2 separate regions of the Homo sapiens genome follow, and region 2 is linked to region 1. The links come from fine-mapping of genetic effects on gene expression. Tissue or cell type: whole blood. Region 1 holds a variant in brackets; the other region holds the start of a gene. All regions are shown on one strand. Distances are from middle to middle.

Evidence for each region. PIP is the estimated chance that this variant, and not a neighbour inherited with it, causes the effect.
Region 2: it holds the start of EPHB6, and the variant in region 1 is fine-mapped to the expression of EPHB6 in whole blood (INTERVAL, PIP above 0.99).

What each region holds. Positions count from the first base shown.
Region 1 is chr7:142,805,920-142,814,025 of GRCh38, forward strand. It overlaps TRB and TRBV30. Among named protein-coding and RNA genes, the nearest start is that of PRSS2, 39 kb to the left of the region's middle. RefSeq lists an enhancer at 2,470-3,669 and a cis regulatory region at 2,791-3,682. The variant T/C (reference allele first, on the strand shown) is at 3,082.
Region 2 is chr7:142,850,574-142,858,679 of GRCh38, forward strand. It overlaps EPHB6 (EPH receptor B6), which reads left to right and starts at 4,503. Exons shown (of 20, transcript NM_004445.6): 1 at 4,503-4,812.

The DNA of each region.
Region 1 (8,106 bases):
CCCGTGAGCATCCCAGAGCCCCAGTCACCATCACTTCCTGAGAGGAAGAATCTTCCCATCAGCACCAGTATCCATAGAGATTTTCCTACTACTAGGCTCATTGCTGGGCCACATAAGGTTGGGGAGTGGGGATGGTCGGGAGCTGCTGGGACAATCCAAGAGAAAAAGGCTTTTTCTCTCTCAAGGGAGTGATTTCATAATAAGAGTTTGAGATAAGGGCAATGGATCCTAATAGATATTAAAGTCTCCATTTCCGTCCCTGAGCCATTTCCTCATTTTTCTTCTGTAGTGGCCCAGAAAGGAGGGGTGGAGATAGACTGATATCAGCCCCTAACAGTCTGTGTGACACACAGCCCCAAATGTCCTATATAGGAGAATCTTTGTGAGGTTTCTCTGGTTATAAATGAATGTGGGAATGGAATATTGGTGCTTTGAGACCTCTGTTGAAGCTGCATAGTGAAAACAAAAATGAGTTTTTGCTTCTTCCTCAGGTAACACTGAGCAAAGATGTCTAGCCATATTTTCATTTAGGGGTGTTGGGAGATGCTGGTGGAGATCACGGGAATGGCTAAAACCCAGAGGTGAACTCAGCTTTGCCATGGACCCATGAGTGAATCCATTTTCTGCTTCTCTACTGACATCTCAGACTCATCACCAGGTTCACTTTTACCATGTCCTAGAAACTCCCCTATGCTATATAAGAAGACTCATAGTATAGAATGGCATGAAGCATGGCCAACAGTTTTAATCACAGTTCATTTCCATTGCTTGTGGCAAACTCCCATGGCTCCCAAAAAGCTGATTTCTGAGGCTTGGGACCCCATAACCTAAGACTACCCAACCCACCTAGACTCAAACACAACATATTCCCTGCCTTATTCTAGGGTTGAATGTTCTTTCCTCCTATCTGGAAGCCTTCCTTTTCTTGCTGTCTGTGTTTGTGAATTTGAAGTTCCTGGGTTCCTTAACATCCCTACATCTCTGCCTGTCCTTTTATTTTTTTTATTGTGGCAGAACTTATGAATCATCTCCCTCCAACAGACATGATATTTTCTATTCGCCATCCCCCTCTCCTATAGACTCAACTACATGCCTTTCTCTCCCATCTCTATCCATAGTCTTTATCTCTGCTGCTGGTGGACTCCTGAGAGGGCTTCTTGGGGAATATGGGGCCCCAAAAATGAGTGAATGGCTTCTGTAGGTCAGCAAAAAGGATCTGAAAATGAGCCTACACCTGTGACTATTTCCAAAGGATTTTTATCAGCTTGCTCTGCAACTGATCTCAACTGCCCTCTGTGAATATGAGCATTTAATCCACACAACATGTAAAGCTAATTCTCAGCTCCTTTTTGCCAACCTACAGTTGCTATTCACTTATCTCTGGGACCCTATAGTCCCCCCAAAAGCCCTCTCAGGTGTCTACATGCAACAGAGTGCCCATATTCTGGCAAGAACCCATAAATCTATGCGAGACAGAATCATTAGAAACTTTAAAACTTGAGTTTTTGGAATGGAAAAAAAGCATGTAGTGGATGGATGAAAACATTATCGTAGCAAAGAAGATGTTGTAATGCAGAGACCTGGGTTTAAGCCTTAGTTCTGTCATTTATCAACTATGTGACCCTGGGCAAGTGATCACCTCTGAGACTCAGTTTTCCTTGCTGTAAAATGAGCTCAATTACAAGCCCAACTTCATAAGATCGTTTTATCTCATTTAACCCACACAACATGTAAAGCTTTTAGAACAATATCAGTAAGTATTAGGTGTTATTATAACTACTACCAACCTGAAGATTTTTTTCAGGCAAAACATTTTCAGTTTTCTCAATTTTGTTATTATAGGGCACAGTTTTGAGCACGTCCTACTTTCCATAGCCCAATCACTCCCTTCTGAAAACATTAAAGTTTGTTTTTATCCCTCTATCTTTTAAAAAATGTGTTGTACAGGACCTGACCCAGCACCAGGTGGGTTCTGACCTACAAAGAGTAAAGGGGGAACTTTGCCTCCTCTTTCTCAACATCTTATACGTTAGTTGGTTCCATTAGGACAATTTATCTACTTTTTGTACGCTCACCATCCCGTTGACTCACAGAGCTCACTTTGACTCACCCCCTGGGTGTTTTTTCACATATCCTTCTTTCACATATTCCCCTTCCTGTGTTCATATAGATGGTTTTCTCTGTTTGGTGGGGGAGGAGGGAGAGAGAGAATGTTTATCATGTTTATTCAGCTTATCTCTCCAACCTATTAAGATTCTGCAGGATTCTAATTTTGTGATTCATTATATTTATCCTTCTATCCTCATGCCATCTCAGATATGATCATCTTGCCTGATTCATTACTATAAGAGTGATTCATGAAATTCATAGCAAGATCACAGCTCAACAGAGACCCCACATTCCCCAAGCCTTGTCTGAAGTCCAGGAGCTGCTAAAACACAGAGAATTAGCTTCTGGTCCTCCTCTGGCCCCAGCTGCATGGCTCTGAACAACTCATTTTTATTCTCTGGGCTTATATGTCCTCCTCTGTGATATGAGGACATTGGGTAAAGTGATCTCTAAGAATCTTCAAACTCTGCTCTTCAGATTCTCTGATTCAAAGCCTGCAGTCTCTGAAGTACCAAGAGAATGGGAACTCAGAGAAGCTAAGCTCTTCCTGGCCTCAAATCATACATATCTGTGACATAGTCTCAGACAGTCTGATGGTGGAAGAGGACAGCACTGGCACTGGAGTCCCACAGTTAGCAAGAGTCAACTGGAGCCCTGACACCTGTTCCCTGGCCCTCCTCCATCAAAAAGGTCTAGGGCCATGAATGACAAGAAAATTGTGTTAAAAAGGAGAGTGGCCCTGAATCAAAAGGTGGGAAGTAATGAGATGTAAATCGGGGTCTTTTAGGTAATAGCTGACAACTGGGGTAGGAATGGGGGTTCTGAGCCCAGTGCTGGCTGCCGGGCTGTTTATCTCTGAGTCACATCAGCACCAAGCCACAGCAGCCACCTGCCCTAGCTCCATCTCTTACAGTCACAACAGGATGTGGTTTGACATTTACTGGGTCCTGCATCTGGGGTGCCTGTGAAAGT[T/C]GCTCCCTCCACCCACCCACCTTCAGAGCATCATGAGAACCACACTCACCGCATCCGGCACCCAACCCCCTCCTATGCTGCTCTTTCTACCTGGGCCCCTGGTTAGCATCCTGGCAGTAGAAATAGAACTTCAGAGGGGAGGGGCAGGGTCTCTAGAGGGGAATCTAGGTATCCCAGATCCATGTGCAGGCCTCCCCTCCCCCAACACATCTTTACACCTGCTGGAGGTTATGCACAAGATCAAAGGCCACAGTGGGCACCATGAAGATAGTGGAGAATGAAAAACAGCTGCAATAACTGCTCTGACCCAGTTGGGATCCCTTCTGGTCCCACATCACTCAGGCAACTCTCTCTTCCCACCTGCCCCCCAAACTCCCTTCCACCTCCCTCCACATGTATCCTCCCACTTCCTTCCACTCATGTAATGAGAGGTGCTGATGAGTCACAGGAGAGGTAGCCCTAGATAACCAACAGACTGCAAAACGGACAGTCCCTGGATGTCTGAGCCAGTGTTTGTGCACTGCATTGACTGGCTCCTCGTAGTTTTTTCCTGTAGTTGCTAAAGCCTGTAAGGTCTGTGTGATGAATATTTTCTAACACATCTTAGAAGAACATAATGCAAGACAGAATGAAAAACTAGAGAGGCAGAAACCCCCAAAGTAAGTAGTGGGAAATTACCAGGTATATAATAGGTCAAGCCTGCTCTGCAGGAGCTCAAGGGATTGTAGCATTCTTATCCCAAACCACTGAATCCTGGGCAAAAATAAGAAGTCGCCTAATTTTAGTATTACCAGCTTCCCAACCCCGGGCATTCTTCATCTTACTCAAGCTGTCCAGAGGCCCCAGGGTGACTCCCTATAAGTCCCATGGGTGGCTGAGATCTATTTAGAGGCACAAGGGTATCTCCTTATAAGTCCCATGGGTGGCTGAGATCTATGAGAAGCATCTTGGGGAGAGTGCCTCTGGCCACCAGCATGTGGCCCTGAATCTTCCATGTGCAACTGGCCAGGGAAGGAGATATATGGAAATAGTCATCCTGCACATCTGCAAAATCAGATGCAAATCCTGGAAGCTCTCCTAGAAAAGAGACAGCCTCATCTGATTAAAGGGGCAAGTGAGTTTGATGAATTATTGGCAAGAGACAGCATGTCTGAACAGGATCGGTCATCCTAAACTGCTTTCCTTTGTCCCCTGGAATTATAATGACTGTGGATTTCTGAGTCCTAGATGGTATGGAAACAGTTATGGGAATGAACAGTCTTGCATGAATAAGAGCAGATAACATGGAGGATGTTAATTTGTTCTGCTGAATTTAGGTGGCTTTCAAGCCTCTCCTTCAATGCTCACCTGTCTCTAGGATGCTCTGTGCAATGATCAGGACTTTTTTTCTTCAGATTCTCTAAAACTTACAATATTCACATAGACCTGCACATTTCTACACAAACTGACTCTCCTGCTTGCAATGTCATTTTGCTTATATAACTATTAGCCTCCTAAAGAGCTAAACTTAGCTACAATTTTATGTCCTTTGTGAAGTTTTCCAGAATTTTTGCAGTATATTACAGGAAGGAAAAATCTGCCTCAAGTCTCTACTAATTCTACTTGACTAGTGGTGATTGCCTGAGACATTTCTCTATTAATGAGGATTCTGAAGCTGTATAAAGCCCCTACAGAATCAGCATCTGAATAGGCACAGCATAGGGTTCAAGTTTCATGGTTTTGCCATCCAAGCATGTTTAGCATTTTAAATATTAATATTTATTACATACTTGTAGTTTATGATTTGAAATTTTTTAACTAAGTCTTCCTCTTGGGTAAGTTGTAATGAAAATAATCTTGTAAGCTTAAGGAGCGGAAAATAATACCTGTTGAAAATTAGAGCTTGTAATAGGGCTTTATAAACACCATCTCATTTAATACACATAACAATTCAATGAGGCAAGTTTTATAGGTGGGGAAAAACTTGAAACTTAGTAAAATTAAATAACTAGGTCAAGTTCATAACAACTAGCAAATTTTTAGACTACAAAAATCAAGTGCTTTGACTAAATCATGCTATGACTGTGCCCAACACCATCTCGAGTACATTTTATTTTTCTTTTTAATCCTCAAAATGACTCACTGTGTCCAGCAAATAATAGCTGCTTAATACATAGGTGATCCTTAAAGTTCAGTAGGGACCCCTGGGCATTATTCCATATGTTCTTGATCACTCTGTGTCTACATCTCAGATTTTCCACTTCAGATTAAATGATACTAGAAATATGCACGTGTCTGGATTGATCTAGGTTAAATGATGCCCGGAATGGAGTATTTTAAGACATCTTGTGCCCCCTTGTGGAGGGGAAGGGACATTAGAAAGAAAATCTTTTTAAGAACAAGGACTAGGGAGGGATGGGGATGAGGAAGGAAGCTCAGTTGCCAAGGTAACCATCGAACCTCTTCCCAGCCATCCACATCAGCCTTTTCCTCTCCTTCATTTCCATCCAAGTGATTTCTCTTTTTTAGAGCTCAACCATTACACACACGGTCCTCTTCTTGCGTATCTCTTGGATCACCATCTGTCTGTCTTTGCTACAAAGGAAGGGCTACAAGATAGTACAACAGGACATTTTTTAAAACCTCAAACATCACCAAAATTTCTAAGTGCAAGCTTATTTTTATTTTTTTTTTTTTTGAGACAGAGTCTCGCTCTGTCACCCAGGCTAGAGTGCAGTGGCATGATCTTGGCTCACTGCAACCTCCACCTCCCAGGTTCAAGTGATTCTCTTGCCTCAGCCTCCCAAGTAGCTAGTATTACAGACGCCTGCCACCACGCCCGGTTAATTTTTGTACTTTTAGTAGAGACAGGTTTCACCATATTGGCCAGGCTGGTCTCAAACTCCTGACCTCAGGTGATCCTCCTGCCTCAGCCTCCCAAAGTGCTGGGATTACAGGCATGAGCTACCACGTCTGGCCTAAGTGCATGTTACCTATACTAACAAAACCACACTTCTGCCTCGAATGAGAACAGTCTCCTGAACATCTTGCCTCTTTGCCTGACTCAAAGCCTCAGGTCTAAGCCTCCCCATAATTTCTAGTCTCAGCAGAAAGATCAATGACAGGAGACTCTCCAGGTGATGAAATTAACCAATTAAGTAACCTGGGTTGGCATCCTCCCGTTTGTTCACCAGCTCACCTCCTGCCACAGGTATATCCTTTCTCTCAGCCATATATGCACAAACCCCCTCCCCACGGCACACATAGAAGAATTTGGAAGACTAGAAAATCAGGCAAGGTATAGCACACCTTGAGGGCTGGAGTATGGTAGCCTGGGCCGGGACATCCATACATTGAGAACTTGACTATGTGCAGGCAAATCACAGGTTCTGCACACATACAATTTTTTGTTCTCCCTGAGAACTTAGTAGAGTCTTTTGTAGAATTCTCGCTTTATTCCATTGCTTTCACATTGGCCAGCAGTCAGAAACCTACTTACAAATATCCTCCACCCAGTCCCTAAGTGAAGGCCCCTGGGGAGTATGGTTAGGGCTCAGGAGAGGGTGGGGTTTTTGCACAGATGTCTGCCCCACCCAGCTCAGTGTGACACTCCAGGCACAGAGATAGAAGCCAGAGTCACTGAGAAGGAGCTTCTTAGAACTCAGGATGAACTGCCGGTCCTGGGGTCTGGAGGCTGAGAGATTCTGGGGCACCTCAGAGCTGATCTGGCCAATACCAACGGAGTAGAAGAGCAGCTGGAGGCCCCTGCCTGCAGCCTGTCGGTACCAGTATAGGTTGGGGTTTGATGTTCCCTCCACAGTGCACTCCAGAGAGAGCGGGCTGCCCACAGGCTGCACCAGGGTCGCTGGCCATTGATGAATAGTCTGAGATCTGACCCCTGTGGGAAAGATAAAGTGCCATTTACAGAGGAGCACCCCAGCCTGGCTTGCCTTCCCCAGACAGAGGGGCAGCTCAAGCTCTTGCATGACACAGGCACCTGGAATCCATCATGGGGAGTAGACTGGGGGAGCCAAGGATGCAAAGCATCCCTGGGCCAGGGAAGACCAACAGAACGAACTCCTTCTCAGGAGATAGAGAGAACTAAGAATCATCAGATCAGCCCCTAAGGCTAAATTCCCATATCTGTTCCAGACAATCAGGAATAGACTCAAGAGTGTCAAACCAACAGCTCAGACTCTGCATTCACGGGATTGGGGTGAGGGTGAGGATGAGAAAAGAGGCTTGCCAGAGAGGAGGGCACCCACCAAAGAAAGTGCCCAGGAGAAGGGCAAGGAGAGAGCAGAGCATCATCCAAGCCAGCCTTTCCTTCAGCTAGTCTGGGGGACAGACGCCTCCTCTTCTGGGCCAGTGATGTGGTCAGGCTGCTCCCTCTGGGAGATCTGCTGCCAGAGCAGAGGAATCCTACCCCATGAGCTGGGGAGGAAATGAGGCTAGTCTTCTTTTAAGAGTGTGGTGAATCACCCCCAGCCTCCCTGGGAACCAGCTATACTCTGCACTTGTTATCTTCTTTGCATTCCTGCTGACATCCTGGTATGTAAATATATTTAATGACTCATTATTTACCTGTAAACTAAAGGTAACTCTCCAGCTCCCCCGGGAGACATCAGAAGCCTGGGAAAGCTTCAGAGAAACTGTGATACTGATAGAAGGATGAAAAAAGATTTTAGTTTATCTGAAATTGGAAACTAGAGCTAGACATGTTACCTGGGAGATGAAAGGATAGGGCTCAAGAGATTCAGGTATTTTGGGGTAATCAAAGCAGAAATGCTCAGTTCTGAGGGCAGGAAGCTTCTATGACAGCCAAAGGGATCGCCTGCATAATCTTCATCCCTGGCAGACAGATTTTGAGACCTGGACAGGCATAATTAACTCCTGAACTGATCAAAGTTGGAATCTGCTCCATGTGTCTCTAATGGGCCAACTAGATCTAATTTATCCTCTAAATGCAATATGAGTAATAGGAAACATCACAGAGACTTGGAATCATATGGATTTGGGTTCATTTCACAGCTCTGCTTCTTGCTG
Region 2 (8,106 bases), 45 kb after region 1:
TCTTCATTCCTTTTCTACTTTGCTTCAGATTGTTAAAAGATCTCAAGTGCTGTCGTTGCTGTTTACTCATTCTTCATGTTGACTAGCTCCACTTTGTCGGTGGTGCTTTAAGTTCTGATGGGATAGATTCTCAGAATCCATTTGAATGTAGAGAGAGACGTATACTATAAGACAAGAGAATATGGGAACCAGGAAATGTGTCAGCCACATCTACAAGTAGAAGGCAGATCTCATAGAAATGCAGGCCACCCTTTCAGTTTAGGAAATGCAAATGTTTTCAGAGAGCACTATCTGGAGGCGCAGCTCCAGAAATAGACTGCATTCTACTGGAAGAGCCGACCAGGGGACCATCTGCTCCACATCATAGATCATCCCATCTCCTATATGCACCTGAATGGAAAAGATACAAACCAGGAAAGGAGCAAAGAATGGTGTGGAGTGTTGATCACTTCTGCTCTGCATATGAGGACTGCCCTGCCCAAAATCTTATTAAAATCTAGAATGTTTTCAAGTCCTATTGTTTGTATGGGTAACTGCAAAGGATTTGTTATTTTTCTTTTGAGATCATGTCATGGTTATTTTAGAAAGAGGACACTCCTAGCATTTCCCTTCACTCCACTAACTTCCTGGGGACCATCTTTGAGCATTAAACCTATGTAAAGACAGTGGTCTGGGGGAAAGTACCAGCAAGTATATCCTATAAAAAGGAGATAGAGATCTCTGTTGATTGCAGGGAAAAATGTAGATTACCGTGATCATTTTATTTCATTTGTGGCAGAGGCTGCTGTTCCCCTGGCTAACACGCTTTCTTTCTTCCTCTCTTAGGTTTAACAGCTTTAATTTCATTTTGTGCAGCATGTATTTTGCAGGTTTCAAGCAGGTAGGGGTGGTCACGTGACACTGTCCTGGCCAATAATACATATGAAGTCACTGAATGGATCTTCCAGAAAGGTTCTTTGAACAGTGCTAATTCAGCTGGATGTAGCGTTTTAATCCTGTTCCCTTCTTTTTCTTGCCTGAAATTTGTAGACCTCATAGCTGGAGCTCTGGCTAAAATGTTGACAATCTGAGAACAAGTCCTCATCCTAAAGTTGGAGTCTTGTTGACTTGGGACCTTCATCGTATTTCTGTGTTATCTAATTTGTTTAAACCACTGTTGTACAACTTTGCTGTTACATATAGCTGAAGTCAACCCCTAACTGAGAGAAAAGCCATCCTCTTTCTCTTGGAGGCACTAATATCTCTGAATACCTTGTTATTATTGCATGGTTAAAGTAATATCAAAGTGTAGGACTATGATGGGTAAACTTTAATACCACCATGAAGGGTATCCATTACCCTTGGTCTACAAATCAGTTGCAATCTAGGTTTGACTTTCAAACAAACCAGTAACATAGGAGAATTTTTGAACATTCTAGAAGTTTCTGAACAGAAAACAATAAAAGCTTTAGTTGTACAAATGGGCATTTAACACTTCCATTGGTAAAGTGTTTGGAGACTAGACTCCAGCTTTTAGGAAGTGCAACTGCACCTAGAGGCCACAAAGCCTCAAGACAGTTCAGTGAAGGGCCTGAGCCCTGTGAGGTCATGCATTGGGAGCTATAACTAATGTTTTGGAATAAGAGATAGGGGACTCAGAAGACTCCTTTATGGCTTTTTACTAGAATTCTTATCAGTGAAATTATTTGTAAAGCTCTTTGTTTATGACAACATCAGCTTACATTAGCTGTTCTAAGGGGAAATAAGGAAGAAGAAAATTGCACATCCTAGGGGAGTGAGCAAAGCCCAAGAAGGAGGCAAAAACTCAGAAAAAATGAGGCAGAACCAATCTAGGAGCCTTCCTATCTCACCTGGAGTTTTCTACTCAGCAGTTCCTTTTGGTTCCAAATTTACATAATAGATTGTTGTGTGCCAGAAATGATTAATTCTGTGAGCCATAAACTTTATTAGGTCCTGCCCATTAGCAATACTCCAGGGTTTTTTTTTTGAACAAGTCAAAAAAAAAAAATATATATATATACACACATATATATATAGAAAGAAACAGGGTCTCACTCTGTCGCCCAGGCTGGAGTGCAGTAGGACAATCTTGGCTCACTGCAACCTCCGCCTCCCGGGTTCAAGCGATTCTCCCACCTTGGCCTCCTGAGTGTCTGGGACTATAGGCATGCATCACCATGCCTGGCTAATTTTTGTATTGTTTGGTAGAGATGAGGTTTCACCATGTTGGCCAGGCTGATCTCAAACTCCTGACCTCAAGTGATCCTCTCACCTCAGCCTCCCAAAGTGCTGGGATTACAGGCATAAGCCACTGTGCCCATCCACATAGAAAAAGTTTAAATATTATTTTTTATTGATTCATTCTATAACACTTCTAAGCACCTGGAGTGTCCCAGGCACCAAACAAATTATAGCAAAAAATTTACATTAAACTTTAAAAAGGAATTCATTACTTTGCTTTTTAATAGCTGCAGGTTGCAGCATACTTTAACAATGCATTCTATGCTCTCCACCTACCATTAAAACTTGGTTTGATAAGACATAGGCAATTAGGATGCAAAGCCGACTAATCACAAATTTAAACCTCTTTGCATCCTGAGTATGACACTTCCTTTGAAAACTAGATGCCTCTCAAATTTTATTAACAAGACAAATATAACTAATTACACAAGCCTTGAGCAGCAAAAACTTCATTTCATATTATAGTCACCTAATATGAGGTATATCATGAAATAGAAAAGAAGGCAGATATTTTTACTGTTATGTCAATACAGGATACGTTGCAAATTACTACAGGAATTTCTGGGTTTTATAAAGTAACAACTACGGTTTGGTTTTGTCCATATTTTTATTTTAACATAATCTAGTTATGTGTCTTTTTTTTAAGTTTTCAATATAACCATAGATGTCTAGCAATCAGGCATGTTAATGTATGAGTTACGTAATTCCACACACAATGCAAATTCTGTTTCTTTGCAGAAGTCTTTGAAAGCCTTGGAGATAACCAGAAAATGAAGGAAGCCCTCCACCACTGAGTTTCAGGGCAAAGGGAAGAAACAAGATAAAGTAGAACCGTCAGTACAAGTGGAATTATTAATGACGTCCAAATGCAGTCATTAAATACTATCAGACTTATTTATTGACTCCTGATATTAAGAGTGAACAAACCCCTGGCCAAGTGGGAACTTGCTCGGTAGCCTTTATCTTTCTATCACTCATTCAGTCAATTCATTAAAGCCTGTTTGTCTCTCCCAGGTGACTCTTACTGAGTTTCATTGTTTTGTTTATTGTGTTTGTTGGCTCATAGATCTCTTTCACAATTTTCTTCGGCTTCTGAATGCTCTTTAAGTACCAGTTTTGATCAGCCCATTTGCTTTAATAAACAGGAGAGCAAGATGGGACAGGGCGATACAGGGAGAAAAGGGGGCAAAGGGAATCGCACCGGGTGCTTGTGCTCCCTAGAAAAACCAGCAGGTGGTAGCAACACTTCGTGGCAAGGCCCCAGCCCAGCTCTGTAGGACCCAAACAATAGACCCCAAATCCCCGTCCTCGGCTAGAGAAGGGGTTAGAGGTGGGCGGAAACACTTTTCCTCGCGGCGCCCCCTCGGTTCCTCAACCCTGCCTCCAGGCGCCAGCTGAGAGCACCTTGCACCGCCCCTCCTCACTGCAGGGAGGTTCTCTCCGGAGCGCGGGCGAGGGAGGAGGCACCCAGAGGTGCAGCGACTTGCCCAAGCCATGTCAGAGCCAGGCGTACAGCAGCGCTTCCCCTTTTCAACCCGACTGCCCTGCCCCTTGGGGAGGGTAGATGGAGGGAGGTTCGACTCAGAAGCCCCAACGTTGACCAAGATCCAGACACGAAAAGAGAAAAGAGTTCCCGGCTAGCACGGCGACGCTTTCATACCGAGACGCCCCCCTCTCCCGCTGCCTCGGCTCCCCCTACCACCGCCCGTACTCTCCCAGATTTCTCAGTTTGTCTTTCCCTCCACCCCCTGCTTTTCCTTCCTTCTCTCTTGCTCAGCTCACGCCCACCTTAGTTCCAAGCTGAGTAGGAGCCCCACTGTTTTAGTTCCTAGAGTTAAAGCCGAAGAGGAGGGAGGCGCGAGGGGGTGTGTGCAGGGCTCTGCCCTGCCCTGAACTGCCACGGTCCGCCAGTTGCGCTTCGCTCCGCGGGTGTCCGACCCAAGCCGAGCCCGAGCCCGAGCCCAGGCAGGGGCTTTACAGACAGCCTCTTCCCTTCCCACTTCCTGCAGGCGCCCCACGCGTGCGATCCTCCCGGCCAAGACCCGCGGGAGGAGGCCGCCCCCTTCCCGGCGCACAGGCGGGGCCCCGGGCGCGCCCCGCGTCTCCCCCGCGCGCCGGGGCGGAGGAGCGGGCGCCGCGCACTCACCGCCTAGGCCGGGAGGGCGGGCTCGGCTCCCCGGAAGAAGGGAGTGGGAAGGCGGCCAAAGGGGCTGAAGGGGCGGGCCGGGCCGGCTTGGGAGGGGACGCGGAGGGGGCGGGCCGGGCTGCGTTCGCTCCAGCCGCGGCTCTACAGCAGCGGGCGGCGGGACCCGGGACCCAGCTTGGCGACGGCGATCTCGACGCGGGCCCCCAGGATCTCCCGGCGCCCCACCTCTGGAGCAGCCCCTGCCGCCAGCGTCAGGTCCACCCCGGAATCCCAGGGACTCTCGGCGCCGAACGGACCCGGGCCGGGTGCAACGGGGTCCCCGGACTGGAGAAGACGCGGGTGGCACCGTGCGAGCTCCAGGAGCCCCGGGTCCACTGCGAGGCCTCGGGGGGCGCAGACCTGCAGAGACTGCGGCCAACGGGAAGGTGAGCCCGCGGGGTTAGCAGGCGGCGTTGTGGGGGTCGGGGACAGTATGCTTGGGGACAGAGGAATTAAGGTTTGCAAGAGTAGTGGGGCTCCTCAGCCCCTAGGTGGCTTCCTGAGGGAGTACTGAGGATCCTTCCTCAAGGCCAGAGTGGGGTTCATGAAGGGTGAGGAAACGGTCAACCTGGCTACTCCCCTCTCACTCCACTCTGACCTGGCATCATTGACACCGCATTACCCTTGCTGTTAGGATCCCCCAGTTGCGTTCCCAGACATTCTCCTCTGGCTCTGGCTTGGGAGTCCTAATCTGGGAGGGTCCTCGCAGAGACGGAGCTCCACGCTTGGAACAGGATTGCCACCCCTCTGACTCCAGTGGCATCACTCCAATCCCCTTGGAGCTGGGAGGAGTCAGGAGGCTGACCACACACCTGTCCCCTGCTCCCCACAAGGCACTGTCCCCCCCAGCTCCATGACCACAGTTAAGCCTTGGAGGTGGAAGGAACGCTTGGTTCCTGCTGCCCAGCCATCACCCCCAACGTGCAACCAAATTCTATTGCGTGCTCCTGCCCCAGCTCCACCCTCGCTCTGCTCCCTCCATCTGGGTGCTTGGCCCTGCTTGCCCCACACCCCCACCCACCGATCTTGGCCGTCTGGCACCCTCTCTCCTCCCATCCCTGGGGGAGCTGGCATGGACCCAGCATAGCAATGTTGTAATGTCCCTGGCAGCGCCCATGGAGCGGAGCTGCTGGGTCTGTTCCCAGTTAACCCAGGCCCTCCGCCCGCCAGGGGAACTTGACTGAGGCTCTAGGAGGGGAGATGCTGGTCCTGAGCTGAGAGACCAGTGGGAGGGAGCTGTGTGGGGCTGTTAGTAGACCACAGAAGCTGCCCAAGTAAGGGGCATTGGAGCATTGAGGCTTCTGAGTGCTGCTCAGTGGGGCCACTTGGCTTTTCAGAGCAGTGGGCCTTTTTTCTCAAAGGAAGATTAGCGTGGGGGTGTCTATGTACTTACCTGGTGGCCTCAGAAGGAGGACTTGTTTGGAGTCTATTACTCCATTCAGGGTGCAAAAAGATGGTTGGCAATGACACTGAGTTACCAGAATGCTGGGGAGCAACAGGCTGGGGTGGGCTGAGCATGGGAAAGGCAGGATCCTCCTTCTGGGACGGCTGTTCTGCTATCACTCTGTCCTGAGCCTGGGCCCTAGACCCTGAGTTCCCACTCTAGGTAGAAGGAGGATGGCAGGTTCTGGAGGGTTTGGGAAGCCTCAGGTTTCCCTTTCTTTACCCACTCCTCCCCGCCCCCCACTTGGCTCCCTCTCCCAGCCCAGGTGTTTCTGCAGAAGTACCTCCTGGGGCCAAGAGCAACTCACAGCCAGACTGGGGGTAGAGCAGGGGCCGAAGGTGAGGAAGAAGGGCCCATGGAACCACTCCGGAACCAGCACTGATGTGCATCTTCTGCCACAGGAAAGCAACAGCCCCCATCTACACAGACAGCATCTGCTCCCGCCCACCTCATCTCATACACATTCCCTTACACACTCCACCAGGTAGACACACATCCTCAGGCACTGCTGACGCAGGTGCTACTCCTGGCACTCAGGGGCTTTCTTCCACAACCTTCCACTTACTCATCTCTCAGGCACATTTGCCTCCTGCCTTAACACCCTCCCTTATGCTCTTTTCCAGAGCCACGCATGTCCCCGGTCAGTGCACAGAGTGGCTCATTCTAAGTGGCTGTCTGGCTAGACCTAGACACTGCCTGCATCTTAAAAGCCTCCCCCAGCTCCACAGCCTGGGAGTGGGAGGCACATTTGTCTGAGTCACAGTGCTCTGGGGGACATTCTCAGGGGCTGGAGGCCTCCAGGGACACAGGACTGTCCTCTGCTAGGTAATCTACAAATTGGCTTCTCCAGCCAAGGAAGCAGGGACTAGAAGAGCCGGAGGACAGCCACCTCCTCACTGTCTGTCCTGGATGCCTCCATGAAGCCTGATGATGGGATCCTTCTCAAGGCAGGAGGCCAGAGCACGAAGAGATCTCCAAGGTGGAGATTAAAGGATAGAGGCTTTGGCATTAAACTGAGCAAGGATTATACTGGAATTTCCTGGGCGTTTAACAGCTGTGGAACAGGATAGGGGACAGGGCCTGTGGTACTGACCCCTCCCACACTGACCTGTGTGGCTCACAGGTGTAAGGACCAGCCCAGCAACCACACCAGACATAAAACCTCGAACCGCTTTGCCCTTGGGACTGTTCTGTCCCTGCTGGACTCTGCAGCCTGCTTTGTCTCACTAAATTGTTCCTGTCTGGGCTCGGTTTGGGGCCATGCCCTTTACTATGTGTTCCCAGTGGACAGTCCCCTGGGTTCCCCTCTGTCCCTTCATAGCCTCATCCCTTTGCTTGACATCGTCGAAGAGAAGCATGCATGATGTCAGCAGCGGGACAGTTGGAACTTCTTGGGAGACAAGCTTAAAGACTAGCCAGAGATAACAATTATTTTGGTTTTCTTGTTGGCATTACTTCACTCATTCATTCTCAGCTCCTACTGTATTTCCACCTCTACCTTCTTCTTATAGATGAACATTTCTTGATATTTTGAAACATAGAAGGAAAATGGCATGGGGAGTGAATAAAATGTAAACGTATGCTTATTTGTCTAGGTTTTACAAATATTTTTCTTTTTTGTTTAGATTTTAATTATGAGATTTTACGTTAATTATAAAAATAAGGTATGCTTACTGTAACAAGAAAAATAATTGAATTATGTGTAAGACAAAATTAATGCCCCCACCTACAATCCTTCATTTCTACCTCCCACAGTAACCCATTTTAATGGCCTAATATGTCTTCTGCCTACCTTCCTCCAAGCTTATTTGGCTTACATTATTTAATCTTTAAAAATTCACTTTGTGGATTGAGGTGCATAAACTATATTAAGTAAGCTTGATTTGCTCATGAAAATATCATATTTAGCATTTAATTGGAGCACGATTAATTTTTTAAATTCTTACCAATTTACCAATTTAATTTACTTTTAAGTCATTCTTTTTTTTTTTTTTTTTTTTTTTTTTTTTTGAGACAGCATCTTGCTCTGTCGCCGAGGCTGGAGTGCAGTGGCACGATCTCGGCTCACTGCAAGCTCTGCCTCCCGGGTTCACGCCATTCTCCTGCCTCAGCCTCCCCAGCAGCTGGGACTACAGGCACACGCCACCACGCCCAGCTAATTTTTTTTTTTTTTTTTGTATTTTTAGTAGAAACGGGGTTTCACCGTGTTAGCCAGGACGGTCTCGATCTCCTGATC